7 linked regions of the Homo sapiens genome follow. The protein of the gene in region 1 purifies or fractionates together with the protein of each later gene. This does not show direct contact. Each region holds a gene or a part of one and is shown in the gene's direction. Other genes may lie near its edges.

Region 1 (4,234 bases):
ATTTCAAAGGACCTAAATTACCTTCTTGATCCCTATAAATTTTTTTTTTTTTTTGTCTCGAGGTCAAGGAAACTGCTTGGCTCCTAGGTTAGGAAGAGACAGTCTTGCAGGTACTTGATGAACTAGAGGAGTGATTCTCAGGCCTGTCTGTGAATTAGACTCACCTGGGGAGCTTAAACTGATGCAGGCCAGGCACTGTAGCTCATGCCTGTAATCCCAGCAGCTTGGGAGACCAAGGTGGGGGAATCACTGGAGGCTTGGAAGTTCAATACCAGCCTGGTCAATATAGCAAGACCCTGGCTCTGCAGAAAATTTAAAAAAATTAGCCAGGTATGGTGGTGCGTACCTGTAGTCCCGTCTACTCAGGAGATTGAGTTAAAAGAATCACTTCAGCCCCGGAGTTGGAGGCTGCAGTGAGTCCTGATAGCATCCCTGCATTCCGGCCTGTGTGACAGAATGAGACCCTGTCTGAAAAAACAAAAAAACTTCCTGACACCTAGGTTGCACCAGACCAGTGAAATTGCGATTGCTGTGGTGGCACCCAGGTGTCATTGTTTTTGTTTTTTATTTATTTTTATGTTTTGAGACAGGGTCTCGCTCTGTCACCCAGGCTAGAGTGCAGTGGCATGATCTTGGCTCACTGCAGCCTCCACCTCCTGGGCTCAAACGATCCTGCCACCTCAGCCCACCACGTAGCTGGGCCCAGAGGCATGCATCACCACGCCTGCTAATGTCTTAGTGTTTTTAAAACTCACGAGGTGATAGTGTGCAATCATGTTTGAGGGCTAGGGACATTTTCCCCCACCAGGGCACGTTTGGCAATATCTGGGGGCATTTTCGGTTGTCCCAACTGGGGGCGAGGGCATGTAGTGGGTCGAGGCCAGGTATTGCTGCTAAAACTCCTACAGTGCGCAGGACAGCCCCCCAAAGAATTATCTGGCTCCAGATGTCAAGAATGCCAAGGATTAGAGACCCTGGCCCACACCCTCAGTCCTTCAGTGGGATCTGGGACCAGTAGCACTGACACAGCCTGGAAGCGTAGAAATGCAGAATCCCAGGCCACACCCCAGACTTGCAGAATCCAAAACAACTCCCCCCACCCCCCACCACTCCCCCCAGAAAAACCCGGCCGCATGTGTGCACATTAAAGCATGCGAAGCCCTGGTTTCGAGGACACCTAGGGTCCCTTGCCAACTGATGAGTTCAAGGTTGGGAGGCACTGAGCACCGCGGATAAGAATGTGGGCTTTGAGATGACACAGGCGTCCTGGGCAGACAGATAGGTCGGGAGGGGAGGAGGAGAGATCTGCGGCATTTCTGCCCCTGAGAGTCTCCTTCCTCTCCGTGGGTCTGGAGGGAGAGTCAGGCCTCTTCAGCTGCCACACTCACCCACCTTCCCTCTCCTTTGTCCCACAGGCCCTGGTGATCACCAATTCAGCCAGAAAATCCTCCACGGTCGGGGAGATTGTCAACCTCATGTCTGTGGACGCTCAGAGGTTCATGGACTTGGCCACGTACATTAACATGATCTGGTCAGCCCCCCTGCAAGTCATCCTTGCTCTCTACCTCCTGTGGCTGGTGTGTGTTTAACGCCGTTTCCCTTTGCATGCAGGGAGGGACTTCTACGTGTGGGCAGTGGGCCGAGGGAGTGGGTGTTGATGGTAATGGCATGTAGAGCTCCCTGGCAGTTCCGGCTGTGGTTCATATTTTATTTTCCAGCCTGTTAACCAATTCCTCAGTATTTTGTTCCTTTCCTGAATTGTCAGGTTGATGTTCTCCTTGGTGGCATGGCGTTTTCATTTTCTCTTTTCCTTGACAGTGTCAGTAATTAACTACCCTACAATGGACGACACATCATATTTCTCCCCTTGAATCCTCCCAAACGCTAACCAGACTCACTTATTCATTAGTCCCTAATTATGGTGGTCAAAATTCTCTCAATTGCAAGGGATATAAATCTGTCTTAAAGTAGCCTAAGTGGCCGGTTGCAGAGGCTCACGCCTGTAATCCCAGCACTTTGGGAGGCCGAGGCGGGCAGATCACCTGAGATCAGGAGTTCGAGACCAGCCTCAACGTGGAGAAACCCCGTCTCTACTAAAAATACAAAATGAGCTGGGCGTGGTGGTGTATGCCTGTAATGCCAGCTACCTGGGAGGCTGAGACAGGAGAATTGCTTGAACCTGGAAGGCGGAGGTTGCGGTGAGCCGAGATTGGGCCATTGCACTCCAGCCTGGGCAACAAGAGTGAAACTCCAATTCCAAAAAAAAAAAAAAGTAGCCTAAGTAAATAGAGGGAACTTTGGGGCTGCATGTATCTCAGAAATCTGGGGACTAGCTTCAGGTGTGGATTGATCCAGGAGATCAAGCAATGTTGTCAGTACTCAGTTTCACCCACTGCCCTGTTGTCCTCTGAGTTAACATCATTCTCAGTGGTACTTCCCTACATGGCTCCGTAGCTTTGGGCTGATAACATCCTGATAGATAAAGGTGCCAGAGAAAAGACAAGGCAGCATTTCTCTGCACAGCCAGAGTCAGTCTCAGAGAGCACTCTGATTAGCCTGGCTTGGTCCTATTCACACCCGTGAACCAATCACTGTGGCCCAGGAGGCAGAGTTCTCTCATTGGCCAGCCTGGGTCACATGTCCTCTCCCATGGCAGAAGAGATGTGATTGACAGCCCTTCCATGTGGAGAGGGAGAGTTCCCAAAATAAAATGATAAGCAAAGAGGCTCATAGCACAACACATGCCTTGTGCTTTGCTACCTCTGGATCTTTGCCACGTACCTTTCCTTCCTTCTTCCTAATTGATGAAAGCCTGCTCATCCCCCAAGGCTGTAACAAACACTACTTCCATTGATTTACCCTCCCTTCTCAATTAGATGGACTTCTTCTTTTGAATTTTGAGTCCCAATAACTTTAGTATAGGAACTCATCTAATAATACTTTCTGAAATAGTTTTTTTTGTTTTGTTTTTGTTTTGACATGGAGTCGCGCTCTGTTGCCCAGGCTGGAGTGTGGTGTGCCATCTTGGCTCGCTGCAACCTCTGCCTCCCAGCTTCAAGCAATTCTCCTACCTCAGTCTCCCGAGTAGCTGGGACTACAGGCTTACACCACCACGCCCATTAAATTTTCTTTTTTTTTTGTATTTTTAGTAGAGACAGTGTTTGATCATGTTGGCTAGGCTGATCTTGAACTCCTGGCCTCAGGTGATCTACCCTCTGTGGTCTCCCAAAGTGTTGGAATTACAGGCGTGAGCCACCGTGCCCAGCCCACTCCCTGAAATAGTTTTGTTTTGTTTTTTTTGCATGCTCAGTGTACTGCCTCCTCTTTGAAGGGTAACATGTTAGCTACTTGCAGACATATAGCAGCTGACTTTTGTGTCTTCTGTGGGTACAACCCCAGCAGGGCCTGATGCATAATGGGCACAGCTCAAATTATTATCTGTTATTGAAAGAGAAGGGCTGGACGAAATGGCTCATGCTTGTGATCTGAACACTTTGGGAGGCCAAGGCGGGTGGATCATCTGAGGCCAGGAGAGCAGCCTGGCCAACATGGCAAAACCCCGTCTCTACTAAAAATATAAACATTAGTCAGGCATGGTGGTGTATGCCTATAATCTCAACTACTTGGGTGGCTGAGGCAGGAGAATGGCCTGAATCCGGGAGGCGGAGGTTGTATTGAGCTGAGTTTGTACCACTGCATACCAGCTTGGGCAACAGAGCGAGACTCTGTCTCAAAAAAAAGAAAAAGGAAGAAGAAAAAATTACTGGTTTATTTGGCTGTAGTTTGGTTTTTTTTTGTACATTTGTAGAGCAGAAGGTGAGTAAAGTGTTTCTAATAATAAAACTCAGAAAAAACACCAGAATTTAATTGTCTAATAGGCTGGGTACAGATATAGGTGGCATGCGCCTGTAATCCCTGCACTTTGGGAGGCTGAGGTGGAAGGATTGCTTGAAGCCAGGAGTTTGAGACCAGCCTGGGCAACATAGTGAGACCCTGTCTCTACAAAAAAAAAAAAAAAAAAAAAAAATTAGCTGGGCATGGTGGTGCCTACCTGTGGTCCCAGCTACCGTGGAGGCTGAGGCAGGAGGATTGCTTGAGCCTAGGAGTGCAGAGGCTGCAGTAAGCTAGGATCACACCACTGCACTCCTACCTGGGTGACAAGGCAAGACCCTGTCTCTAGAAGAAAAAAAAAATCTAAATAAAGTGTCTTTTCAAGCAGGTGTCTTGGGGAGTC
Region 2 (4,234 bases), on another chromosome or scaffold:
TGGCAATCCTTGAACTATTTGTTTTACAAACTGTGAATTTACGGTGGTGTTTTTTCTCTGAGCTTGGTAGAAACTGTAGTTTTATAAAACTAAACAACTATTTGGATTACTGTAAACTATATAAATTAAGTACATTTATTGAACTGTTTCGTCTTTCACACAAATATCTTTAAAAATTTGTCAGTCGGAACTACCTTTGGAGTTTTAATTTCCTTAAGAGGTGCTGGCAGCATTTTTATGAGCTATGACATATGCCATTTTCTTAGCACTTTCTAGAATTTCTCATTCACTTCTCACATAACCTAGTAAAGTTGGCATCATCTGCATTTAGTTGGACAAAAACACCAAGGCTTAGAGAAATTGAGTCTCCTAAAGACATGTAACTGTGTTGATGAACTGAAGTGCATGTATATATTTATATACATATATTAATTTGTTTAACAAATCTTTAATTTGTATCATTCTCTCAACAGATTTATTGAGAATGCAGAGACTATCTTTTTTACCACTTACATTATTGAAGAATGAGTGAAGAAATTAGCATCTATTAGGTGCCAGGCACATGGTACCCTGCTTGGGAAGTAGTGGCCAGCTGAATCAAACAGATTCTCAGTATTTGCCACATGGCACATTTAATCATACTTAGCTCCTGGACATGCAATCCAAAATTCTATATAGGGCTGATCCTTAAGGTATTTGTAGTCTCTTTGGGGACATAAACAATAAAGGTATGATTTCAATAGTGTATACAGTAAGCTCAGAGGGGGTAAGTTTGAAATGATCAGGAAATAATATATAAGGCAGCTTCTTAGAGGAAGAGGTGACAGCCCTTACAGGCTGAAGGAACAGCAGAAACAAAGACCCAGAGACCAGAGTGATCATTATATAATTGACACAGCATCTGTAAACAGTTTTTCAACCTACTCTAGACAGTTAACTTCAGAGAGTTTAAATTGTGGTCCTTTCAGAGTAGGTAGCATGATTTGGAATATAATTGGTAAGATGTTAATTAATAGTATTGGTTTTAAGTTGTCTCTGAAGAATAACATGTTGAATTTAAAATAACCTGTGAATAGAAAAGTAACTGAGGTTCAATCTTGGTGGCGATTTGCCTAGTATATAATTATAGGCAATACATATTATAGATGTTCAATAAACATATCTAAGGAAGCTAGTAATCTAGGAAGTTATAAAAGAACACTAGAGCCTACAGTAGGATTCCAAGTTGGCAGCCAGGGAACTGACCCACATTGTTTTAGCAGAAAAACTTATGGCAAAATTTTAAAATCAGGAGACTTTACAGAGAAATCTAGATTTTTGTTCTCTCTTTAAAATTGATAGTTAAATCCTATGTGGTGACAATTATCTAACACTGAGTAATGATTGTTCTTTTTAGGTAGGAAATTGCTTCCTACTTTGTCACTATGCCGCCTACTCTGTATTACATCTTAGCAAGGCTGAATGTCCCTTGGTATTTGCATCACCTCTAGTTGTCATTTTTTTTTCTTGTACTCTTATCTCTACGGAAGGCAGAAGACAAAAGACCAAGAAAAATGGGAGAAAGCAGATATTGTGTATATGTGTAAAGGAGGAAAATGCTTATCCATTTAATATGAAAATAAAGGATGTCAGAATCTAAAGAAAAAACCTGAAGATGCTAGTCCTCTTCTCTCACCTGCCTGTTTTTTGTAGGCATCTGAGTTTTTGACAGCAGTGCTATAACCAGGAGAGAGGGAACTTCTTTGATAGAGTTAATGGTATGGTATTTCTGCCAAAACACGGATACTCTTTTAGGCCTGGTTCTTATTAAGTGCTTATACACTGATAAGATTGATATTCTCCTTTGAATTCTCATTTAACTGTGGAAACAGAAACATGTAGAATAGCTCTAGTAAAAGTAGGATTTATTAAAAGGATAGAACATCACTTATAAAATGCTGCAGGGCCATGGGGAAACCATAATTATTCCATCTATTTCTTCTAGGGCTCATATTATTTGTCTTCTTTCTCTTATTTACTTTGTTTTCCTGTACAGACTTGCAATTATCAATCTGTTTACTCCTGGCTTTTCTTTCTCAGTGTCAGCTTGCCTTGCCTCAGTGGTGATTCAGGCCTTTATGCACGATGCGCTGTCAGTTTTGTTTAAGTGCTCACCATCATTTCTGTAATCTCCTTTCAAATTCCTTGAATAGAGAAACTGACCCAAAGTAGACCAGTTGTGCTACAGGGCATGCAAGGCTGATTCTTTCGAAGGCTACGATTTGGACATTTTCTTTAAGAAAGTAGTTGAGAATCAATGATTGACATTTCTGTTGCTATGACCATCTGACTAAAATAGGCCAGTAATGCAGTATTTTATTTTATTTTATTTATTTTAATTGTTTCTGCGCTAAGTAATGACCAAGCAAAGTGTATCATCTAAGCAAAGCACTTGTAGGCTACTCAGCTGAGATGTTTGCCCATCCAAAGAAAATAGGACAGGGGTAAATGAGATCTTACTACAGGCAGCAACAGGAGGGACTAAGAAGATTTAGATGATCAGGAAATACTTTGTATATGTTTACCTTGTTTTAAAGGATTTTATTCTGTCTATGAAAGCAGGGTATTAGAAGTAGCCATCACATACTGAGCTCTCACTATATTTGCATTACTTCTAACCATCATAAAAACCCTGCAAAGGTTTGCCAGGTTTCACGGGAGAAGAAATAGACTCAGAGAGGTTTTAGCATTTTACCCAAGGTTAGTGGATAAGTGGATGACCACTTTGGAACTGTGCACGTGATGACATCCAGAGGAAGAAGAGAGGACCTTTCTTCTTGGATGTCTTTTTTGCAGAACAAGAAACATCTTCTGTTACCACAGCAGAATTTTCTTATATTGTATTGACCAGAATTGGGTCGTATGCCCTTTCTTAAGTTAGGCACTGGCTTGACTTCACTGTGTGAAAAATGTATAGACTTTGGCTAATCAAGGGGATGGGTGTGGAATCACTAACTCTGAGTACATATGCACAAGAAAAGTATATTGCTGAACAAAGTTGAGCTACCAGCAAGAAAGAAATTTGGGGATAGGTTTGGGAATAATAAGTAGCATTTGTTGAGAGCTTACTATATACTATGCACCCTTGTAAGCACTTTACATGAATCAGCTCATTTAATACTCACAACTAATACTATACTCTGGTAGATAGTTCAGGTTTCAACCCAGATCTGACACCAATGCCTGTTTCCTTAACCATAGTCTACCTCAGTATCAAGTGATAGCTTGATTATAGATTTCAGCAGAACAGTGTCAGCATGCTGACGTTTTAAAGTTCACCGTGTGTACATCCTAAATGAACATTTTTGCTTTTTTTAAAAAAATGAAATCAGACATAGTAATAACCGCATTGTAGACTAGCATTTCTGTGACAGCCTATCATTTTAGAACAATTAAGGACACCAAAATTCTTGACTACGTGTAAGGGTGGCAGGACTATTTAAGAGAGTTAGAGTATATATTGACTTCTCCTATCTGTAAATTTCTAAGGTGATGTACTCTTAAATATACCTTCTTGTTGTTGTCTTGAGCTTAATTTGCCTTTTACGACAAAATGTGTAAATTCCCAAAGTATCGTTGTGTGTGTGTGTGTGTGTGTGTGTGTGTGTGTGTATGTATTCTTTTGCTAGGCTGTAAATGGAATGGTAATTTCTTTTGGCTCTTCTCCCAAGATGGCAAAGTAAAGTGAACTTCATGTAGAATTTTAATTTTATAGTTTAATACCAAGAAGGACAGTATTCCAAGCTGAAATCTCTTCTAAAATGTTTGGTTTATTTCATTCAAAGGAAATGCATTCTACACCATATGCTATCTAAAAATTCTGGCTAACCTCTTTTCTAATGTGCCATTGGATACTAAGTAGAAGTATAATAATATAGAATCAGCAGATTCTATGAACAAGATGGGGTATATGGGTGATTCATTTTTTTGGTAGGCAGTACATTTACTATAGCTAGTGATCTGCTTGATATCTTTCTGTTACTGTATAAATCAAGGACTTTATTATATGAAACATTCCTAGGGAAAAATTAGGATCAGCAAATGTATAATTCAGGAGAGATTTCTTGGGAATATATTAGCCCTGGTTTTTGGAGGGGAACAAATCTGTTAAACTATAAAAGCTATACCACTAACTTCTTCAGGAAAGTGCATACATACACAATTTTATATATAATTCTGAGTCCAGAGGACTCAG
Region 3 (4,234 bases), on another chromosome or scaffold:
AACTTTTCTTTTGGCACTTATAGTCAGTATCAGAGTATCCTCCAGAATATTTTCTATGTATTAATCTTGCCTTTAATACATCTATAAGGGTCAGGGCTGAATTGTATTCCTCTCCATTCTTCTTAATGCTTATTCAATGCAATTAATTAACTCAAAATTAGATCTTTCTGGATCATCAGAGACCCAGTACTGAATCCTCCATTCATCAATCAACAAATAATTATCTAGCACAGAGATAAGCAAACTTTTTTTTTTTTTGAGACAGGTTTCTTTGTTTTTTTTGAGACAGGTTCTCACTCTGTTGCCCAGGCTGGAGTGTAGTGGTGTGAATACCCCTCACTACAGCCTCAGTCTCCTGGACTCAAGCGATCCTCTTATCTCAGCCACCTGAGTAGCTGGGACTACAGGCATGTGCCACCACACCTGGCTAATTTTTGTATTTTTTGTAGAGACAGGGTCTCACTAGGTTGCCCAGGCTGGTCTTGAACTCCTGGCCTCAAGCGATCCCCCCATGTTGGCCTCCCAAAGTGTTGGGATTATAGGCATGAGCCACCATGCCTGGCCCAAACATTTTCATTAAAAGACTAGATAGTAAATATAGCAGGTTCTGTGGGGTCTGTCTCATAATATTCTTTTCTTTCTTTCTACAACCCTGTAAAAACTTAAAAATCATTCTTTGCTTGAGATGGGCCAGACAAAACCAGACCACAGGCCCAAATAGTTTACAGATCCCTGATCTAACACTATGGGTTAACTATGAAAAAGTAGAAAGAGACCATCAAAGAAAACCAGAGCTAGTGAGTAGTTGAAGTGGTACAAAAACCAGATGTTATTCAGGAACTATTACAGTAGGGGAAAAGAGACTTCAGTATAGACTTCCAAATTTCCTCAGTTCCGAATATAGCATGGACAAGTGGAGATTTATAGCCAAGGAGCAAGGTGGGAGTCAGTGGATGGAAAATTACCCAAAGGAAACATCAGGGGCAAGGTGGGATTCTGGCTAAATTGACTTGACAGGATTCTTGCTGAAGGCATGCCAGGCTGATCAAATACCAAGGGTGGGAGTTCTTTCTAAACTGATTCAGCAAGATTCTTGCTACAATTGGGTGGGTAGTGCAGGCCCAACAAAGATGTCAAGGTCAGGGCCTAGACAGCTTAGAGGAACCTGACTAGAAGTAGATAAAGGAGGGCATCTTGTCAGTGCAAAGAATAATAAGACACTTCCTGCCCTCAAGGAATGCAGTCCAAAATTACAAAATTTCTTTGATTCTAGGTCATCAATAATTTTTTTCCTGTGCCAGTCTTCTAAATCATAGCTTTGCCGGGTGCGGTGGCTCACACCTGGAATCCCAGCACTTTGGGAGGCTGAGGCGGGTGGATTGCCTGAGGTCAGGAGTTCGAGACCAGCCAGGCCAACATAGTGAAACCCCATCTCTACTAAAAAAAAAAAAAAAAAAAAAAAAATTAGCTGGGCGTGGTGGCGGGTGCCTGTAATCCCAGCTACTAGGGAGGCTGAGGCAGGAGAATCACTTGAACCCGGGAGGTGGAGGTTGCAGTGAACCGAGATCACACCATTGCACTCCAGCCAGGGAAACGAGTGAAATTCTGTCTCGAATCAATGAATGAATGCAAGCTTCTGGGAAAAAAGATAAAACAATGCCACATGAAAGAAACACACACCAATAGGAAAACACATTTTAACTTCAGAAATGTTAAAGATTATACATTGGTCTTAGAATCAAGGGAATAAATAATAGACACCATTTTTTGAGCCCTTAACACATCACTTAGTCAACTGTAAGTAACACAGAACAACTAAAATAGCCTTAAGAGATAAGGACCTTTTATATTAACAAGAAGTCATAAGGTAGGAGGGCTCCAGAGTTCACGTGGAGACTCATTTGATTCCGGCTCTTGTCATCTTACTGCTGACACCCTTAGTGTGCCCTACTTGTCCTCCACCTGGTCCTCCAAGTGCAGAAACTGCACTTCCACCCTTAGCGTCCTCTAGTTGTCCTCTACTAGCTCTCCACTGGGTCTGGCAGAGGCCATAGTAGTTCCAGGTATCTAAACCTCATGATGAAGGGAACGTCTCTTCTGCAGATTTTTAAAGATAAACTCAAGTTTTCCAGAAGCCCCTCCAGCAGATCTCCCCTCACATTTCATTGGCCAGAGTTGTGTCACATGCCAATTTTTAAAGCAGTCATTGGCAGAAGGAGTGGGAACCAATCATGGTTCACTCACTGTTCAATTGGGGCTGGTGGGTGGCTGTTTATTAGGCAAGCCATAGTATCTGCTACACTGTGCTAAGCACTTTATAATTGTTCAGTCTATGATTTTGCACTATATACAGATGGTTCCCAACTTACGATGGTTTGACTTAGGATTTTTTTGACTTTAGGATGATGCGGAAACAATACAAAGTCAGTAGGAACGGTACTTCAAGTAGGAACGGTACTTCAAGTACCCATACAAACATTGTTTTTCACTTTAAGTATAGCATTGAATAAATTATATGAGATTTACCACACGTTACTGTAAAATCAGATTTTATGTTACATGATTTGCCCAACTGTAGGCTAATGTAAGTGTTCTTTTTTATTTTTTTTATTTTTATTTTTTTTAGACGGAGTCTCGCTCTGTCACCCAGGCTGGAGTGCAGTGGCGCGATCTCGGCTCACTGCAAGCTCCACCTCCTGGGTTCACGCCATTCTCCTGCCTCAGCCTCCCGAGTAGCTGGGACTACAGGTGCCTGCCACTACGCCCGGCTAACTTTTAGTATTTTTAGTAGAGACGGGGTTTCACCGTGGTCTCGATCTCCTGACCTCGTGATCCGCCCGCCTCGGCCTCCCAAAGTGCTGGGATTACAGGCGTGAGCCACCGCGCCCGGCCTAATGTAAGTGTTCTGAGCACGTTTAAGGTAGGCTAGGCTAAGCTCTGATGCTTGATAGGTATATTAAATGCATTTTTTAATTTTAATTTTTTATTTGAGTGCTAGAACTAAATATTAAATGCATTTTCATCTTATAATGGGTTTATCAGGACATAACTCCCTCCTGTATTCTGCTGAGGGAGTGTGAAAGGAAAAGATTTGGGGTCCTTTTTTTTTTTGAGATGTCTCACTCTGTCATCAGGCTGGAGTGCAGTGGTGCGATCTCGGCTCACTGCAACCTCCGCCTCCGCCTCCCAGGTTCAAGCGATTCTCCTGCCTCAGCCTCCAGAGTAGCTGGGACTAGAGGCACGTGCCAACACGCCCAGCTACTTTTTGTATTTTTAGTAGTGATGGGGTTTCACCATGTTGGCCAGGATGGTCTCGATCTCTTGACCTTGTGATCCACCTGCCTTGGCCTCCCAAAGTGCTAGGAGTACAGGCGTGAGCCACCTCACTCGGCTGGGTCCTTTCGATTTTTAGAGACAGTGTCTTATGCTGGTACCCAAGCTAGAGTGCAGTTCTATGATCATAGCTCACTGCAGCCTCGAACTCCTGGGCTCAAACGATCCTCCTGCCTCAGCCTCCCTAGTAGCTGGAATTACAGGTGCAAGCTACTGCGTTCAGCTGATTTAGGCCCTAAAGTTGGAATTTTGGAAGAAAAATTTCTGAGATTGCTGTGATGGACATTTTGCTGATGGAGGTTTCCCCTAGACCTATCCATTTGTTGTCTGGATCTGTTTCACTGTATACTTTCATAGCACCTTAGAACCCAAATAAAAGCAATTTCCTTTTCCTCCATGCATGTTCCCCTCATTGCCTGGAGTTGACTGGTACCACTTGGTAATCTTACTGTCTGTGTCTGGCTCTCTCTTCAGAACAGCATGATCCTCTCTGCTGCCATCTTCATCACCCTCTTAGGTCTGCTTGGTTATCTCCATTTTGTGAAGATTGATCAGGAGACTCTGTTAATCATTGATTCCCTTGGCATTCAGATGACTTCATCTTATGCTTCAGGCAAAGAAAGCACTACCTTCATAGAAATGGGCAAGGTCAAGGATATTGTCATCAATGAGGCCATTTACATGGTAAGTATTTAAAAGGTAAGTATTACAGGCCTCTCTGGAGGAGGTAGCCAGCCCATGGGATGTTCCCAGATTTAAACTAAAACCGTAAAAGTGAGACTTATATTTAAAAGGTAAATCTCTTTATTTTTAAAGAGATGCAGCAGGTTTTCATGGATAGGGAATTAGCATTTCAACTTTATCTTCAAGACCAACTTCAAAATTATCACTGGCATTTTTT
Region 4 (4,234 bases), on another chromosome or scaffold:
TGGCTACAACAGCACAAGGCACTCCAGTGCACTTTTGAAAAGCTACCAGCAGAGAGGTTACCAGGAGGAAGTTCTGGTTGCTTTCCTCCTCAGGGCCTGCTGACAGCCGGAGATGACACTGAGAAGTGAAGTGCCAGAAGGTTTTCATCGTACTTTGCTTTTTCCTGCCTTACTTGAACAGCTTTATTGAGGTCCAATTATAATAAACTGCAAATATTAAAATGCAGAATGTAAGTTCTGACGTACATACACCCTTGCGAAGCTCTCACACAACCCAGACAGTGAACATATTTATCCCCCACTGAGGTTTCCTTTGTACCCACCTGCCCTCCTGCCCTCCCACACTCCCCTTCCCTCTCTCTCTCTCTCTTTTTTTTTTTGTTTGAGATGGAGTCTTGCTCTGTCACCCAGGCTGGAGTGCAGTGGTGCAATCTTGGCTCACTGCAACCTCTGCCTCCCAGGTTCAAGTGATCCTCCTGCCTCAGCCTCCTGAGTAGCTGAGACTACAGGCGCACACCACCACACCTGGCTAATTTTTTGTATTTTTATAGAAATGGGGTTTCACCATGTTGGCCAGACTGGTCTCGAACTCCCAACCTCAGGTGATCTACCCACCTTGGCCTCCCAAAGTGCTGGGATTATAGGCGTAAGCCACCATGCCCAGCCACCTCCCCTTCTCTCTCTCTCTATTGCCAGGACATCAGTGATTCTGCTTTCCGTCAGTATAGATTAGTTTGCATTATTTAGAGTTTTATACAAGTGAAATCATACAGTATGAACTCCCTTTGGTCTGGCTACTTGGCATAATTGTTTGGAGACTTGTCCATGTTGCTGTGTGAATCGGTCATTCATTCCCTATTCCATTGGACGGATATTTCACAGTTAACTTATCCATTTACTACTTGATGGACATTTAGGCTGTTAGCAGTTTTTGCCTACCACAGAGTAAAGCTGTAATAAACACTCACATACTAGTCTTTATGGGGACATATACTTACAATTTTCTTGGGTGAATACTTAGGAGTGGGATGACTGGATCACATGGTGAGTGCATGTATAACGTCTTAAGAAACTGCCAGTTTTCCAAAGTGGTTTTACCACACATTATGCATTGGAAACCACTGTACTTTCAGAAAAGCAGGGTGGGGTCATGATGTTGTTATGGAAAGGAAGCCAACAGGTTGGCTTTATAGGATTTATGAAAGAGGCTATTTTTTTCGAGAACCTTGGGGTGTGATGCTGGACAGGTTTCCTTGAAATGTACTCGCTAAGGGTATAAAAGGAAATGCCCCAGCTCAGGCACAGACTTCGTCCTCGAAGGCAGTCAAGCTGTTGTTTCTTTGGTTATGTAGGGGTGGGCTTTAAAGAAATTCAAAACACATGAAAATGACAACTCGAGATTTATTTCAGTCAGTTCCGAGGCCCTGTGCATTAGGGAACTAGAACTCATTTTCTTCAGTACACAAACCTAGGACTTCCTTTTCCTGCTGAAGTCAGGGTAAAGAGGAGAAAGGTGGGTTCTGGGGGCACCGGGTCTTTTAGGGAGGGGCCCCAACCCCAGTGGGCACCACCCAGCCCTCATGTTCTTCTTGCCACCTGGTTACTCAAAGGCCCTTTTCCTGGGGAGTCCAGAGCCCAGGGCATTCTCAAAGCGACCACTGTCCTGTTAGCTTCGGTGAGTCCCTTAGCTGATAGAGCAGGGGGAAGGGGAACCAGTCAGCAAAACAGGACTTGACAGACAAGCTGAATCAAGGGAAAGGGAGCTAATGTAGAAAGGATGAGCTGGGAAAAATGTAACAGCCCACCTGCCATTCCTCATTTGTGGATGGGAGATGTACTAATTATTGTCTAAGTAGAAAGAAAACAAATGCTAGAATCAGGTGACCCTCAGAGTCAAAGAAGTGAATGATAACTTCAAAGGAGAGGTTCATTCATTTCTGTGTGGACTACTCAGATGATTCTGAAATCTAGAATACTATATAGACTCTAACTCCTGCTTGGAATATTTTTTTCAGAAGAATAAGCAGATTTAAAATTTAATCTCCATCTTTTTGGCATTTGGTTGTTACTATTCGTTTACAAGCCAGTCCACTTTTTGATTTTTGTCCCTTTTCCAGGAGCAGGCTTGCATCTGACTGACCCACCATGACACCCACAGACTTCACAGTGAGTACAGCCGTGCTCCTCTGGCTCCTCAAAACACACACTCATCTTCCCTTTTTAGGGGGTGTGGGAAGGATCCACTGTGGGGGAAGGATTTATCTGTGTGGTTTCCCAGGGTAAGATCTCTGCCTGGCAATGCGCATTGCTGGGTAGGTTGTTGTCCAGCACAGAGGGTTTTGCAAATGCAAAGAGGCAGCTATGCTTTGGGGTATGTTGTGGAGACAGAGGAAAATGTGGTGTTATAAACAGCTAAGGATTTTTAACCATCTTTAACTAGGGTGTGCTTAGTTCCATATGCCTGTTCTAAAACTCAGACAAATGAGGCAAAGGGAGAATTCATGTAATTTGCTTTTAAAAAACCCATGGTGGGCACATTAGTTGTATTTCTTGCATAACATTATGTAGACCTTATGAAAACACGTAACAGTATACATTCCCCTGAAAGAGACCAAGAGCTGAGCAAAAATTAGTGAGTCAGTCTGGGCGTGGTAGCTCACGCCTGTAATCCCAGCACTTTGGGAGGCAGAGGCGGGCGGATCACCTGGCCAAGGCCAGGATTTCAAGACCAGCCTGCCCAACATGGCAAAACCCCATCTCTACTAAAAATACAAAAATAGCTAGGTGTGGTGGCATGCGCATGTAATCCCAGCTACGTGGGAGGCTGAGGCACGAGAGTCGCTTGAGCCTGGGAGGTGGAGGTTGCAGTGAGCCAAGATCACGCCATTGCACTCCAGCCTGGGCAACAGAGCGAGACTCTGTCTTAAAAAAAAAAAAAAAAATCAGTGAGTCAAATCATAATCCAGAGAATCTTTTTTTCTTTTACAGCCGAATGTAATTAAGTGTAGAATCAAATTAATTTCCCATGCTTTTGTAACATTCATAAATGCCTTATAAAATTACCTAAGGGCTTTGATTTTGCTCTTCTCCAAGGGAAAGCCTGGGTTTTACATGTAGATAATTGAAATCCAGACTTCCTAGCAGGCGGGCTAACAAACTGCCTCACAGTACATTGTGGGTTTCCATGATCTATGGAGAGTGGTGGTTGAAACAGTTTATCAACTAAATTATTTATGATATGCTAATGATTCATTAGTATTACATATGTATAGTTACCTAATTGCACCTATATCCATAACAACAAAAAAGTAATTAATTTGGTCCTGGTGAAGTAACTATTATTCTGACAAAAAGTAGACTCTTCAGTTTCTCCTGCATTAAATTCACCTTTCAATCCCTGAGGCTGTGGAAACAGAAGTAGATGAAGGCAGCAGAGCCAGGGCTGCTTCTGAGCTTGCCAGTCATTTGCTTTTATCATTTGGGATCTTGGATAATAGCCAACTCTGCAAAGCAGCCCCAGATAAGAAGGAAACTGCACCTCAGTAATGACCTGCTCTTGTCAGAGGAGTCTGGCGCCATCTAAATGGGAAGAAGATGGGACCCCTGTGGCCCTGACTCCCATATTCCATGGAAAGTAGCCGTGGCACCCTGTGGCCACCTTTCTGAGGATGTGCTGGGCCAGTCACCCATGCAGGTGCCCCACATTCCCTCAGCGTCACAGTAAAGGCAGAGTCCTTTTTACAGATGAGGAGACCGAGACTGGGGAAGGTGGTTTGAGGGTTCAAGGTCTCATAGAAATTTGGAGGAATAGCCCTTGAGGGGTGCTGTTGGCAATCATAGCTTTGCTGGGTTCCTCCCTCAGGGTGAATGTCAAAGCACTGAAATCCAGGTCTCAATGTTGGGATTTAATACTTTCTCAAGTGTGGGGCCAAGGTGTCTGCCAGAGTCCCTGCTGATAACAAATTCATTTTTTCCCCACCTCCCTCCTTCTTGTGCCCTCTCTTATTCCATCTCCCCCATTGCCTTGTGCCCATTCTTGGTGCTAAGGCACAATGGAAGCCTTGGCAAGCACAGTCCCTGCCCTTTCTCTGTCCATTCCCCAGAGAGGGGCATCTTGAGCCTGGGTTTGGCTGAGGATTTCCAGAGAACACATGAGCCAGAGAAGGAGGCCCTGGAAAGCTCTGGGACCTTCTTCCTGCTCTGGGTGTTCACAACTGGGACGCCTGGGCTGCTG
Region 5 (4,931 bases), on another chromosome or scaffold:
ATCCAGGAGGTCCTAATAAAATGCAAGAGGTAGCACAAAACACACAATCACCTGGCCAGGCAGAAATTTACATCTGTCCAGTGGGCTTTTTAGCGGGGAAGGGGAGGGGTGTGTGTGTGTGTATGTGTGTGCGTGTGTGTGTGTGTGTGTGTGTGTGTGTCTGTGCGGTGGTGGTGGTGTAGTGGTGATAGGGTGTTGGTTGAAAAATATCAAAGGAGGGTTCTGTGAAGTTCAGGGTTTCCTGAGTGAGGACCCGGTGGGAAAAAATGGCTGAAATTTCCAGTGAGATGGAATGAGTGCAGTACTCAAAAAACAAGGAACAACCAGCCAAGGGGGATTGGGCCCTAGAGGCAGAGGTGATTGATAGAATTCCATGTAATAATGTGTCCTGAAATGCTGGAATGTCTCCTTAGCCCGTGCACAGCTCCAAATCATCTGCATGCAGCCACCCCTTGGCAAGTATGTTTCTTTATATTCCCACTCCCCATCTCTGCACAAACTCCTCCCTCCCCTGACCAAGTCCTTTCCTATCCCTCCAATCAAAGAGTAAACTAAGCTTAGCTGTTACTTACAGTGCAGTATGAATTTTTGGGATGTATTTGTGCTTTTGAAAGTGCTTATTGTTTCAAAGCTTAGTAGACAAAGCGCAGTGCCAAACCTAGTTAGACTGCTGATGAAATTACAGTCACTCTGGGGCCTGTGAAGAGGAGCAATTTCTGGAGCAGTTGAGCTTTGCTAGGAGGCATAATATTACTCTCTTGTAGGTCAAGGGCCTGTACCAATTGGAAGTCAATGAAAAATTCAACCTAATACAGCATACCACTAATGGGCTGCTGCACTGGAGGCTAGGCTTAAATTTCCCTTAAAAGAAGTAAAAAATAAATTCCTTATGAAAAAGCATGGAGAACATTAATGAAAATGAATTCTCCCTTACCATCAGAGAGGTGGAGCCATTGTAGAAAGTGATTCAAAGAGCTTCCCCAATATGAGATATGAGGCATATTCACCCATAACAGCCTTATCCATTGGCTTGTCAATTATTCAAGCTTTGATGTGTAGAAAGCCCTTTAATACACTAAACTCTTGTACTCTTAAGCCCAAAAGCACCCCGGGCCCAACACCCTGTCCAGTTGCATAGGCTGCACAGGCAAGGGTTAACAGTACAACTAATGAAAATTGGGTAGGTCAGCAAAGTTGATCTCTTCTCCCTGGGCTCACCACAAAGGAAAACACCGCCATACTGGAGTGGGAAGACTCATCCCAAAGGTCGCCCCCACAACCTCTGAATCTTGTGGAGGAGACTCAAAATAAATACAGCCTAGGAGATCAAAGACCAGAAAGCCCCATTGGCTCCAAGGAAAGTCAAGTCAATACCCTAGCAGGGGGAAGAATTGCTTCACTCATCCTGGAACCTCCAACCCCAAGGAGGTGGGGGAAGGGGGGCACCCCACATGACCTGTACTGAAATAGGGAAGGAAGGGGAATGTGTGATGGGACTAGGAGTTTGAGTGAGAGATATAGGGAAGGAAGGGAAGTAAGCAGTCACAGACGCTGGCGGCCACCAGAAGTTTGAGCCTCTTTGGTAGCAGGAGGCTGGAAGAAAGGACAGAAGTAGCTCTGGCTGTGATGGGGATCTTACTGGGCCTGCTACTCCTGGGGCACCTAACAGTGGACACTTATGGTAAGGCAGAAAGGGGGGCCTGGCTGCCATTGCTGGCTTAGGCAAAAGGCTAGAGGGTTGGTGTTTAATGTCTACTATGGAAAGCCTATTCCTACTGGGCAGGTGAGTCTTCTCAGCCAAACTCTGCAGGCTCTCTCAGCCTTGAGCAAAACGGATGGATGTAGTTGAAGGCTGCTGAAGAAGCCAGAAGGCAAGTTTGGGCAGAAATTGAAAAAGGATTTTTCTCTTGGAAAACATCTGCATTATTTTCTAGGGCTTGTATCTCAGGGGCATCAAGAAGGTTCCCAATGACATCCGAATCTTTCCTCCATCTGCTGTCTCTCATCTAAAATTCTACAATTGGACTTAACCACTCTGCTTCCAAGCTTTGGTCTCTGTTAAAATATACAGCCCCCGAAGAAGGAGTGTTTTCTAAGAGTTGGATAGGACTATAGAAGTAACCTATACCACCCTTCATTGTCATGAATAAGTGCTCAGAAACATCCAGTAGTGATTGAGATTTCACTGTTCACTACCTCCCCAGACCATCTAGTCCATCCAGGAGCAGCTCCAACTGTTAGAAAGTTCTTATTTGTGTTGAACTAAATCCAGTTCCCTCTGACTTCCATCCAAAAACCCCAGCTTTGCTTCTTGGGGCTACACAGAACATAGATGCTTCCTTGCCCTGTGATAGCCCTTCAAAGCCCTGAGGACAAGTACTATGTCTCCTTGACTCTTCTCTCCTCCAAGCTGAACAGCCCCAGCTTTTTCAACTGGTCTTCATAGGACTTGGTTTCTTACCCATTCCTGGGATAACTCACTTCCCTATAGACATGGCTCAATTTGTCTGGGCTATTTATGGGCTGGATACAAATCCCAAAGGAGGATGGACTATTCCATAGTGGCATTATTTCCTTGGAGCTTGGGAAGCTCTATCCTCATCTACACTCCTGAGAAGTGAGATGGATTTTCAGGAAACTCAACCTGGGTAACAGCTAAGTGAGATCCAATATAGGGTAAAGGGGGATTTTGCTGCTTCCCTATCATCCCTAGAGAAAAAGGCTGGATAGGTGTTAGCTTGGTGTCACTTGTTAGGTCAGAAAGAATCCAGCTTTCCGTAGCTGACTCTGATTAGGTTACCCTATCCTGGGGCTCTGTGACCCATCACACTCTGGAACCTCAGAGTTAGAAAAGACTCTGAATTAAGTCAACCAAGAGAAAAAATAATTTGCCCCCAAGCCAAAGAGCATTAGTGGCAGAGTTAATGCTCCTGAAAAAACATTTTTCTTTCTATAACTACCACATTTCCATTCTCTAGCAGGTTTTATAATGTATCTCTCTACCTTCTCCAAGTCTGTTGGTTTGAGCTAGGGCTTAAGCCTGGGGCTTGAGGGAGCATTTTAGAAATGTTAAATTTAAATCCTTTGTTTGTGTGTGTGTATGTGTGTGTGCATTCATGTGTGTGTGTGTGTGTGTGTGTGTGAGAGAGAGAGAGAGCACTCATGTGTCTTGTTCCTTCCCCAGCCTATGAGCTTTTCCAGACCTGGAAGCAGGCCTTCCATTTGTACACAGGATCTTATACTATAGACCTCAGGCTCAGGTTATGCTGAGCTGCAAATAATACCTTCCCTCTCCCTGGACCTCATTGTTCCTAGCCCATCTGTACAGTGAGGAGGTTGACTTGACTGGTCTTAAAGGGGTTTCTCAGCTGGACAACTCTGTGGGACTGCAGCTTCACTGCTAAAAACCCTGTAGCGGCCAGAGTAAGCTGCTAGCCTCTTCCTGTGGGGCTAAGAGATATGTCAAGATAATCAAAATTTAAAAAATTTCTAATATTCACATTTTATATACATTTTAAACATTTCAGAAACATTTTATAAACATCTATTATATAAGTTAATCCTCCATCCAGGAGGCATTCCAGGAAAGGGAGAGAAGCCAGTCATGTGGGGGAATGGGATAGAGATATGGAAAATGTCAACCTCTTTGTGATGATGGGAGGAAGGGGATTCAGAAAGAGACCTAGAATGGGTCTTATAAAGGAGCACACACCTAGTAAATTCAACCTTTCTTTTCTTCAGTGCCATTACACAGGCATCAGACATTTGCTTTTATAAGGCTGGGTCTCAGGACCACATTAAGCTCAATACTGTATATATACTTATCAGCAATAAGTATATATACTTATCAGCAATAAGTATATATACGTATCAGTAATAAGTTTATATACTTAGTAATAAGTATATATACTTATCAGTAATAAGTATAATATAATATAATGTTATATATTATATATAAGTAATTATCAGTAATAATTATATAATTATTATATATTATATATAAGTAATTATCAGTAAAGTGGAAGTAATAATAAAGGAAGTAATATAATATAATAAGTATATAAATATATAATATAATATAATATATTATGAATATATTATATTATATTATTATTATATAATATATATTATATATTGTATTATATAATTATTATATATATTATATTATTATATAATTATATTATATATTATATTATTATATGATATATATTATATATTAATATTATTACATAATATATATTATATATTATATTATATTATTATATAATATATATTATATATTATATTATATTATTATATAATATATATTATATATTATATTATTATATAATATATATTATATATTATATTATATTATTATATAATATATATTATATATTATATTATATTATTATATAATATATATTATATATTATATTATATTATTATATATTATATATTATATATTATATTATATTATTATATAATATATATTATATATTATATTATATTATTATATAATATTTTATATTATATTATATTATTATATAATATATATTATATGATATATTATATTATTATATAATATATATTATATGATATATTATATTACATTATATATTATATTATATGATATATTATATGATATATTATATTATATGATATATTATATTATATATTATATAATATAATATAATATATCATATAATATATCATATAATATAATATATCATATAATATATTATATAATAAAATATATAATATAATATATAATATAATATATTATTATATATATAATATATTATATAACATATTATATATATAATAATATATAATATTATATAATATATTATATTATATATAATATAATATAATATATATTATATTATATTATATATTATTAATATATTATAATTATATAATATATATATTATATAATTATAATATATTAA
Region 6 (4,234 bases), on another chromosome or scaffold:
GAACAAGAGATATTAATAAGAGAAGTAGAGTAATGGAAAGATCTGAAACTGGTATTGAGCTGTCTCACTCCGTTGCCCAGGCTAGGGTGAAGTGGCATGATCTCGGCTCACTGCAACCTCTGCCTCCTGGGCTCAGGCTGGGACTACAGTCACGTGCCATCATGCCTGGCTAATTTTTTGTATTTTTTGTAGAGATGGGGTTTTGCCATGTTGCGCAGGCTGGTCTTGAGCTCCTGGACTCAAGGGATCCACCCGCCTTGGCCTCGTAACATGCTGGGATTACAGGCATGAGCCACTGCGCCTGGCAGAACTGGTTAAAATATTTAGGGACTGGAAAAGCAAGGGGAAAGGAGGAAAGAAGTTGCTCTAGAGTAGGGCTGTGGCAAGCAGTAAATGGTATTGTTTTTGATACATTGAACACTGCTTTCCAAAGTGAATATTTTCTATTTGATGAGCTAATTTTAAAGTAATTATTTTTTCTTGCTTACCAGGAATTTTCTACTTCTGGTCATGCTTACACTGATACAGGGAAAGCATCAGGCAACCTAGAAACCAAATATAAGGTCTGTAACTATGGACTTACCTTCACCCAGAAATGGAACACAGACAATACTCTAGGGACAGAAATCTCTTGGGAGAATAAGGTAAGAGAACGCATTAGAAGTTATTCATAGGTTCAATTTATCTTGTAGATTGAATGATGAACATACCCCAAATATAATCAAAAGAGATCTTACAACCTATCTAGTAGCCATATTTTTTCTCTGCATGTGGCCTTTTTTGATGTCTTATGTTTCTAGAAAATAAGGCTTTGTTTGTGAGTACTCTAATTACTATATTACATCTTTGTTCTGACTGGTTCTCTGTTACACAGCTAAGCTTCTCCTGGGTAGAACAAACTATTTGCGGAAATTTGGTTTAGTTTTGTAATTGTTGAAAAATTGGCTTGACAGAAAAATTTTTCTAAAATGTTCTCATGTTTTCAAGGAGAAAATCTATTAGATATAGTCAAGTGCCCACTATGTACAGGGCACTGTTTTTGATAGAGATACCATGTATAGATAATGTACATGCAAAACTGAGTAAAATGACTTAGCCTGCTTGTTAAATGTCAGGTTATCTCATTACTGCTCTTTCAAGAGAGTATCAAGATGATTTTGTTGTATGGGAATTCTGTTTGGTTTTGAACTGTATTTTATGTAACTTGCTAAAATAGGATTTGCCCCATTTTTTAGTGGGAGAACCATGATGAAGGCTGGGGTGAGGGGACAGGAGGATGGAGAGCTTACTTATTACATAATTTAATATTTTGCTTTCTTGAATGACTCCTTTTTTTTGTTAAAGAACTCAGGAAACTTTAGAATTGGTTTCTTGAGTTGGATAAATGATTGAAAATTACTAATTATTTATTTTAAATCTTTGTTTTTCAGTTGGCTGAAGGGTTGAAACTGACTCTTGATACCATATTTGTACCGAACACAGGGTAATTATTCAAATCCCATTTCCTGAAACGTTTTTGGAGCCTGAAAGGGTAGAGAGCTTTAGAATAAGGAGATATAGTGCAAAGTTCAGAGGCAGGAAGAACTCAGAAGGTTGCTATAAGGAATATTGGAGACCTTGTATAGGTAATACAGATAAAGGAAGATCCCTCCCCACCAAGGCAGGATGAACAATTTGAAAACTGAATAGATGAGCAAAAATGTATAAATGTATTTGAGAGAGACACATGGTAGAAAAAATTTAGGAGCTAGAAGAGTCTTGAGACCATAGATGAATCTTAAGCAATTCTGAAGATTGATGGACATGGTATTCTGCTGAGAAAGTTAATTCCTTTTGGCTGGGCGTGGTGGCTCACGCCTGTAATCCTAGCACTTTGGGAGGCCGAGATGGGCGGATCATGAGGTCCGGAGATGGAAACCATCCTGGCTAACACGGTGAAACCCCATCTCTACTAAAAAATACAAAAAATTAGCCAGGCATGGTGGTGGGCGCCTGTAGTCCCAGCTACTCAGGAGGCTGAGGCAGGAGAATGGCATGAACCCAGGAGGCGGAGCTTGCAGTGAGCCGAGATGCACTCCAGCCTGGGCAACAGAGCGAGACTCTGTCTCAAAAAAAAAAAAAAAAGTTAATTCCTTTTTTTTCCCCCTCACCCTCTCTTATGGTGCTGAAAAGTTAATTTCTTAAGAAGGTGATCTGGCTCTCAGATGCTATAATGATTAGTTCTGCTGCCTACTTGATTTCTTAGCCTCTGTAAATCCCCCAACTTCTTGACCTCAATTTCCTCGTGAAAAAAAGGGGGATTGTGTCATTTCCTATCTGCCTAATGTGGGTCCATGCTATCTGAAGGACGGAGGTTGCTAGATGAATGCAAAGTGACATTTGTCTCAGCCGTAACAACAGGTGTGTTCTTTTTGCCACACACTTCAGTTATCTTTAGGACAAATATTCTTTTCTTTTTTTTTTTTTTTTTTTTTTTTGAGATGGAGTCTTGCTGGAGTATAGTGGCACTATCTCAGCTCACTGCAAACTCTGCCTCCTGGGTTCAAGCAATTCTCCTGCCTCAGCCTCCCAAATAGCTGGGACTACAGGCATGCACCACCACGCCCAGCTAATTTTTGTATTTTTAGTAGAGACGGAGTTTTACCACGTTGGGCAGGATGGTCTCTGTCTTGACCTCGTGTTCCGCCTGGCTCGGCCTCCCAAAATGCTGGGCTTACAGGCATGAGCCACTGTGCCCGGCCAGGACAAATATTCCTACAAGAGGCTTGATTGGAATAGGGTTATTAAGAACTAATTTCATTTTTTCAGTATTGTCCTTCAAAAAAGCATGCTTCTCTCCATGATAGGTTAATAATGTATATTGGGGATTAATTCTTTGTGGCATTTGGCATTTGGAAACATTTAAAGAGATTTGGCTTCTTGTACGTCTGTATACATACACCTTCAGATTATTAATTTGGCACTGAAATATCTTATTCATTCTTTTTTTTTCTTTTGAGACGAGTCTCGCTCTGTCGCCAGGCTGGAGTACAGTGGCATGATCTTGGCTCACTGCAACCTCTGCCTCCCAGGTTCAAGTGATTCTCCTGCCTCAGCCTCCCAAGTAGCTGGGACTACAGGCGTGTGCCACCACGCCCAGCTAATTTTTGTATTTTTAGTAGAAACGGGGTTTCACCATGTTGGCCAGGATGGTCTCAATCTCCTGGCCTCGTCATCCGCCCACCTTGGCCTCCCAAAGTGCTGGGATTACAGGTGTGAGCCACCACACCCAGCCTCTTATTCATTCTTATACTTTTGTTCATGCTTTTATGAAATAAATCATGAAGTATCCTATCATTTGAACTTATAATGAGTAATAGATGATAGTAGTCTATACATGTCTAATCCTAACAAAATTATATTTGTAGAACTAGGTCATTTGAAATGTTTTTACTATATATGTGGCATGTACCAAAATAATATTTACATTGGGAGATGAGAGAGAGGATCTTACTCTAAAAATTCCTAGACAGTAGTAAGAACTCATGTTGTTTTCATCATTTGCTTTTGTTTGTTTGTTTATTGCAGAAAGAAGAGTGGGAAATTGAAGGCCTCCTATAAACGGGATTGTTTTAGTGTTGGCAGTAATGTTGATATAGATTTTTCTGGACCAACCATCTATGGCTGGGCTGTGTTGGCCTTCGAAGGGTGGCTTGCTGGCTATCAGATGAGTTTTGACACAGCCAAATCCAAACTGTCACAGAATAATTTCGCCCTGGGTTACAAGGCTGCGGACTTCCAGCTGCACACACATGTGTGAGTGTTTATAATTTATTCCTTAGTATCAGTGCAGTTGCCCAAAATATTGTAGCCATTAGCATGCTGAGAAGTGATGGTACTCAGATTTAGCATGCCTTGGTGAATATCCATCCTTGCGGTGCTATCCTCATAGCAAAACCTTGCCAGGAGGCTGGTGCACGTGGTGTGCAGGCTGTGCTGCTGGTGGTCACTGGCCCCTCAGCCTGCACCCCAAACTTGAGGAAGCTCCAGCCTCTGTAGAAGAACCACTGGGATAGAGGGAGCCCAGAGCATGGCTTACCTCATGGTAAGATGACCCTTTGGAGATGTTACTGCTTCCTCTGCTGCCCTCTCATCTTGACAGTATCTGGAAGCAGGTCTGTTTTGGTCACCAACAACCACCACCAAATTGATCTGAGCATCCTGGGACATCCCGGTAATTCTGTGGAGGTTTCAG
Region 7 (4,234 bases), on another chromosome or scaffold:
TGGCTCGAGGTCAAGCATAGAGGCCAGCATCTGCCCAGGCATTCTGGCCCTGGAGCCCCTTTCTGACAAGGTTGAATTCTCTGTCACATAAATATCCAGAATCCTAATATATTCATCCCTCTGACCCAGTAATACCCTTCCGAGAATCTGCCCGTAGGGATATAATCAGCAAGAAGACAGCAGTTTCCTCTAACTCAAAGATGTTCATTGCAGTGGTGTTTATGATAGCCAAACCTTAGAAGTGACTTGCGTGTCCAGCATTAGGGACTGGGTAAATCAGTTTTGCTATGTCCATTATAGAGAATGTTTCCTGGCAATTAAGCAGAAATTATGGATACTATAGAGCAACCTGGAATATTTAAGGAGAAAAAAGGTTCCTAAATGACATGCAGACTGACTAATTGCAAGTCAATAACGAGCTTGTCTACCTGGGATCAAAGACTTGATAGGTGTAAAGAAAAGCTGTCCTGGCAATGCTGTCAGGGAGTGATGGTGGGTGCTGGTTCTCCTTCCTGCAGTCTTTTTGAAGGTTGCCTTTTAAATGTGGAAAAATAAGAGGAATTGAGCCAAGAGTTGGGGCATCTGGTTGGGTTTGTGGGTGACCTAGGGCAAGTCACTGTCCTGGGCTTCATTTCTCTCTCCAAGAAGACTGGCTGGACTGGCTGCTCTGAACCTTCTTCTAGCATGAAGGAACCACATACTGGGGGCCAAAGAAGCTGCCCATCAAACTGGTGCTAGAGAGAGAGATGAGGCCAGGAGTGGGCTCGTGGCTCCCTTCACTCACTAGGACCCAGCTTCTACTGGCATAACAGGGTCTCCTATTGGGCAAATCACTTCCCCCATCCTGCTTAGAGCTGCTGTGACCACTGTAACCCTAAGTAGGACTTGGTGGAACGTAGACATTTGAAAAGCTCTTGTATACGCTAGAGATTTTCAAATGTATGCATAATAGTTGCAAATTTGTTAAAAACAAAAACATTTACAAGTTATAAAAGTAACATGTCATAGATGTAACATAGTTGTAACATAAAGAAGTGTTAGACTCTCCCTACCCCTTTCCTGTCCCACTGCTGACAGTTTCGGGAACACCCCTTTCACTCTTCTCTGCTTGTACAAACACATATATACATCCTTTTCCCTTCTAACCATAATGGGATTTTGCTTTATACTTTATTTTGCAACCTGCTTGTTTTCCTTTAGAATATATCATATGGTGGGCATGGTGGCATGTAATTCCAGCACTTTGGGAGGCCAAGGCAGGAGGATTGCCTGAGGCCAGTCCTGGCAACATAGCAAGACCCTGTTTTTACAAATAATTTAAAAATTAATGGTGCTTGGTGCCTGGCACCTGTAATGCCAGCACTTTGGGAGGTCAAGGTGGGAGGATCGCTTGAGCCCAGGAGTTTGTGACCAGCCTGGTCAACATAAGGAGACCTCATCTCAATAAAAAAGAAAAAAGAAAAAAAAATATAGCTCTCTCTCCATGTCAGTACATATAAGGTGTCATTTCTGTTAATGGCTACTTAACCTTCCATGGTAAGAAGTACTATCAGGGATTCAACTGGTCCTGTTTGATTGAAGAGTCAGCCTATTTCTGATGTTTTGCTATCACAGAGTATTTTAGCAAGTATATATATGATGTAGGTAAAGAGGCAGATAAACACATGCACACTGAGTAAGAGAGAGAGAGAGAGACTGAGATTGCTGCATTCTGTGAGTTTTATTTCTGCGGGTTTAGTTTATCCAATATGGCATTTCTGTGTTAAAAGAGAGAACCATCTAAATCCTTCCTTGAAACTTGTGGGCCTTATGTGTGTTTTCAATCAACAGATACTAGAAGTACAGTTTGGGGGTTGTGAAATGCTTTAACCCCGCATAGGGGTTTTCACACTGGCCTGGACAAGGCCAGGGCTCAGAAGAGAGAGCATTGCAGAAGGAGGAACTGCCCCTGGCCTGCCTTCCTCTCTCTGGGAAGGAAGAGTTGCAGCTACTTTGTAGAGCATTCTTGTTTTCTCCTTTGTCTCCTAACGTGTACTTTGAACCTGGTTTGGAAGCAGTCCCTCCACATCAGGGCCTAGCACTCAGGAGACTGATCTGGCACTCAGGAGCGCCAGAACCCGAACGGTCCAAGTAGGCCCTCTGGGCCACCTCTCTTGTGTTATAGATGGGGAAACCAAGGCCCAGAGAAGGGAAGTATTAGCCCAGGGTCACCCAGCAAGTTGGTGCCACAACGGAGTCCCTGAGAAGCCTACCAACTCCCAAGCTGGCATCAGGGTCATTTATTTGGTATCTGCTGGGTGAGGGGCACAGGGTCAGGCCTTGACTGGAATTGCATCTGCTCTGTGTCTGGGGACAAGTCCGTTACCTCCTCTGGGACTCAGCTTTCCTGTCTGGATAAACCTTTGTCCCAAGGCTGCCGAGAAGGTCCAGCGATCACAGGAAGAATTAAGTGTACATGATGGGGTGGGGGGTGAAAGGAGTTGGGGTGGGCGGCATTAGGGGCAGACTCCCTTGAGGCCCGAGGGCCGCGTGGGGCTGTGCCCAGGTGAGCCCATTCTTCCATTTGCTCCGCAGCTGGTATTCCCTCTCGAGTGGTTTCCACTCAACAAGCCCAGTGTTGGGGACTACTTCCACATGGCCTACAACGTCATCACGCCCTTTCTCTTGCTCAAGGTACTGTCCCAGGGCCCCCACTCTCTCCTGTCATCCCCATTCTTTGCACACCTGGCAGGAAGGTGATGCTAAGCCCTGTGTCCTGACTCAAGCACGCTCCTGCCTGCTGCTGGGGGGTGAAGGCTGTGACAGAGCAGCATGTCCAGGGCCTGGGGCCCGGGGAAGGCGGAGCTGCCGGTGGCCTGGAGGGATGGAAAATATGCCCCAAGAAAGGGCTTTTGATTTGAGCCTCAGCCTGGCGTGCCAGTGGGGGAAGCAGAGAGGTGTTCAGGTAGAAGGACCTAAAGACAAGGCTGTGCTTGGGAAACCGTAAAACATTTGGGGAGGCTGAGGCAGAAGTGACTGGAGGTCCAGGGAGAGGTCAAGGACCCACTGGGAAGAGAGGAAGAAGCCAGGTGGCAGGAGAGGCAGCAGCAGCAGCTGAACTCCATCCTCTGCCCTGGAGAGCCCTGAGATGTCACTGGGAGCACTAGCAGGAACTGCTGGCTTTGCACTTTGCCAAGTAAGGCCTTTAAAACTACTATAGGTTGAGCATCCCTAATCCAAAAATCTGAAATCTGAAATGCTCCAAAGGAGTCTGAAATTTTTTAAGCACTGGCATGATACTATAAGTAGAAAACTCGGCCAGGCGCGGTGGCTGGAGCCTGTAATCCCAGCACTTTGGGAGGCTGAGGTGGGTGGATCACTTGAGGTCAGGAGCCTGGCCAACATGGTGAAACCCCCGTCTCCATTAAAAATAGAAAAAATTGGCCAGGCGCAGTGGCTCATGCGTGTAATCCCAGCACTTTGGGAGGCTGAGGCGGGCGGATCACCTGATGTCAGGAGTTCGAGACCAGCCTGGCCAACATGGTGAAACTCCATCTCTACTAAAAATACAAAAAAAAGTAGCCGGGCATGCTGGCAGGCACCTGTAGTCCCAGCTACTCGGGAGGCTGAGGCCAGAGAATCACTTGAACCCGGGAGGTAGAGGTTGCAGTGAGCCAAGATCACGCCATTGCACTCCGGCCCGGGCAAGACAGTGAGACTTCATCTCAAAAAAAAGAAAAAGAAAAAAATACAAAAAACTTAGGGCCGGCATGGTGGCTTACGCCTGTAAGCCCAGCACTCTGGGAGCCCAAGGCAGGCAGATCACTTGAGGTCAGGAGTTCGAGACCAGCCTGGCCAACATGGCAAAACCTCATCTCCATTAAAAATACAAAAAAGTTAGCCAGGTGCGGTGGTGTGCGCCTGCAGTCCCAGCTACTTGGGAGGCTGAGGCAGGAGAATCACTTGAATCCAGGAGGTAGAGGTTGCAGTGAGCCGAGATTCCACCACCGCACTCCAGCCTGGGCGATGGAGCAACACTCTGTCTCAAAAAAGAAAATTCTACACATATGTACTTAACACAAACTTTGTTTCATGTACAAAATTATTTAAAATGTTATATAAAATTAACTTCAGGCTGTGTATGTAAAGTATATAGGAAATATAAATGAATTTTTCCAGGCATGGTGGCTCACACCTGTAATCTCAATACTTTGGGAGGCTGATACAGGAGGATCACTTGAGGCCAGTAGTTTGA

The links.
Region 2: the proteins of ABCC1 (region 1) and PDHX fractionate together in Homo sapiens (co-fractionation; one large-scale study listed by BioGRID). This does not show direct contact.
Region 3: the proteins of ABCC1 (region 1) and PIGH purify together in Homo sapiens (co-immunoprecipitation; one large-scale study listed by IntAct). This does not show direct contact.
Region 4: the proteins of ABCC1 (region 1) and CCR9 purify together in Homo sapiens (co-immunoprecipitation; one large-scale study listed by IntAct). This does not show direct contact.
Region 5: the proteins of ABCC1 (region 1) and VSIG4 purify together in Homo sapiens (co-immunoprecipitation; one large-scale study listed by IntAct). This does not show direct contact.
Region 6: the proteins of ABCC1 (region 1) and VDAC3 fractionate together in Homo sapiens (co-fractionation; 3 studies listed by BioGRID). This does not show direct contact.
Region 7: the proteins of ABCC1 (region 1) and CLN6 purify together in Homo sapiens (co-immunoprecipitation; one large-scale study listed by IntAct). This does not show direct contact.

What each region holds. Positions count from the first base shown.
Region 1 is NC_000016.10:16,046,727-16,050,960, forward strand, and holds part of ABCC1 (multidrug resistance-associated protein 1), read left to right. Parts: intron 1-1,415; coding exon 1,416-1,577; intron 1,578-4,234.
Region 2 is NC_000011.10:34,919,249-34,923,482, forward strand, and holds part of PDHX (pyruvate dehydrogenase protein X component, mitochondrial isoform 1 precursor), read left to right. Parts: intron 1-4,234.
Region 3 is NC_000014.9:67,593,526-67,597,759, reverse strand, and holds part of PIGH (phosphatidylinositol N-acetylglucosaminyltransferase subunit H), read left to right. Parts: intron 1-3,807; coding exon 3,808-4,017; intron 4,018-4,234. UniProt on the Homo sapiens protein: Part of the glycosylphosphatidylinositol-N-acetylglucosaminyltransferase (GPI-GnT) complex that catalyzes the transfer of N-acetylglucosamine from UDP-N-acetylglucosamine to phosphatidylinositol and participates in the first step of GPI biosynthesis.
Region 4 is NC_000003.12:45,892,789-45,897,022, forward strand, and holds part of CCR9 (C-C chemokine receptor type 9), read left to right. Parts: intron 1-1,428; exon of another isoform or gene 1,429-1,513; intron 1,514-2,117; 5' UTR 2,118-2,145; coding exon 2,146-2,166; intron 2,167-4,234.
Region 5 is NC_000023.11:66,036,694-66,041,624, reverse strand, and holds the start of VSIG4 (V-set and immunoglobulin domain-containing protein 4 isoform 1 precursor), read left to right. Parts: upstream 1-1,544; 5' UTR 1,545-1,626; coding exon 1,627-1,681; intron 1,682-4,931. UniProt on the Homo sapiens protein: Phagocytic receptor, strong negative regulator of T-cell proliferation and IL2 production. Potent inhibitor of the alternative complement pathway convertases.
Region 6 is NC_000008.11:42,398,221-42,402,454, forward strand, and holds part of VDAC3 (non-selective voltage-gated ion channel VDAC3), read left to right. Parts: intron 1-491; coding exon 492-644; intron 645-1,430; coding exon 1,431-1,483; intron 1,484-3,567; coding exon 3,568-3,795; intron 3,796-4,234. UniProt on the Homo sapiens protein: Non-selective voltage-gated ion channel that mediates the transport of anions and cations through the mitochondrion outer membrane and plasma membrane.
Region 7 is NC_000015.10:68,212,729-68,216,962, reverse strand, and holds part of CLN6 (ceroid-lipofuscinosis neuronal protein 6), read left to right. Parts: intron 1-2,574; coding exon 2,575-2,673; intron 2,674-4,234.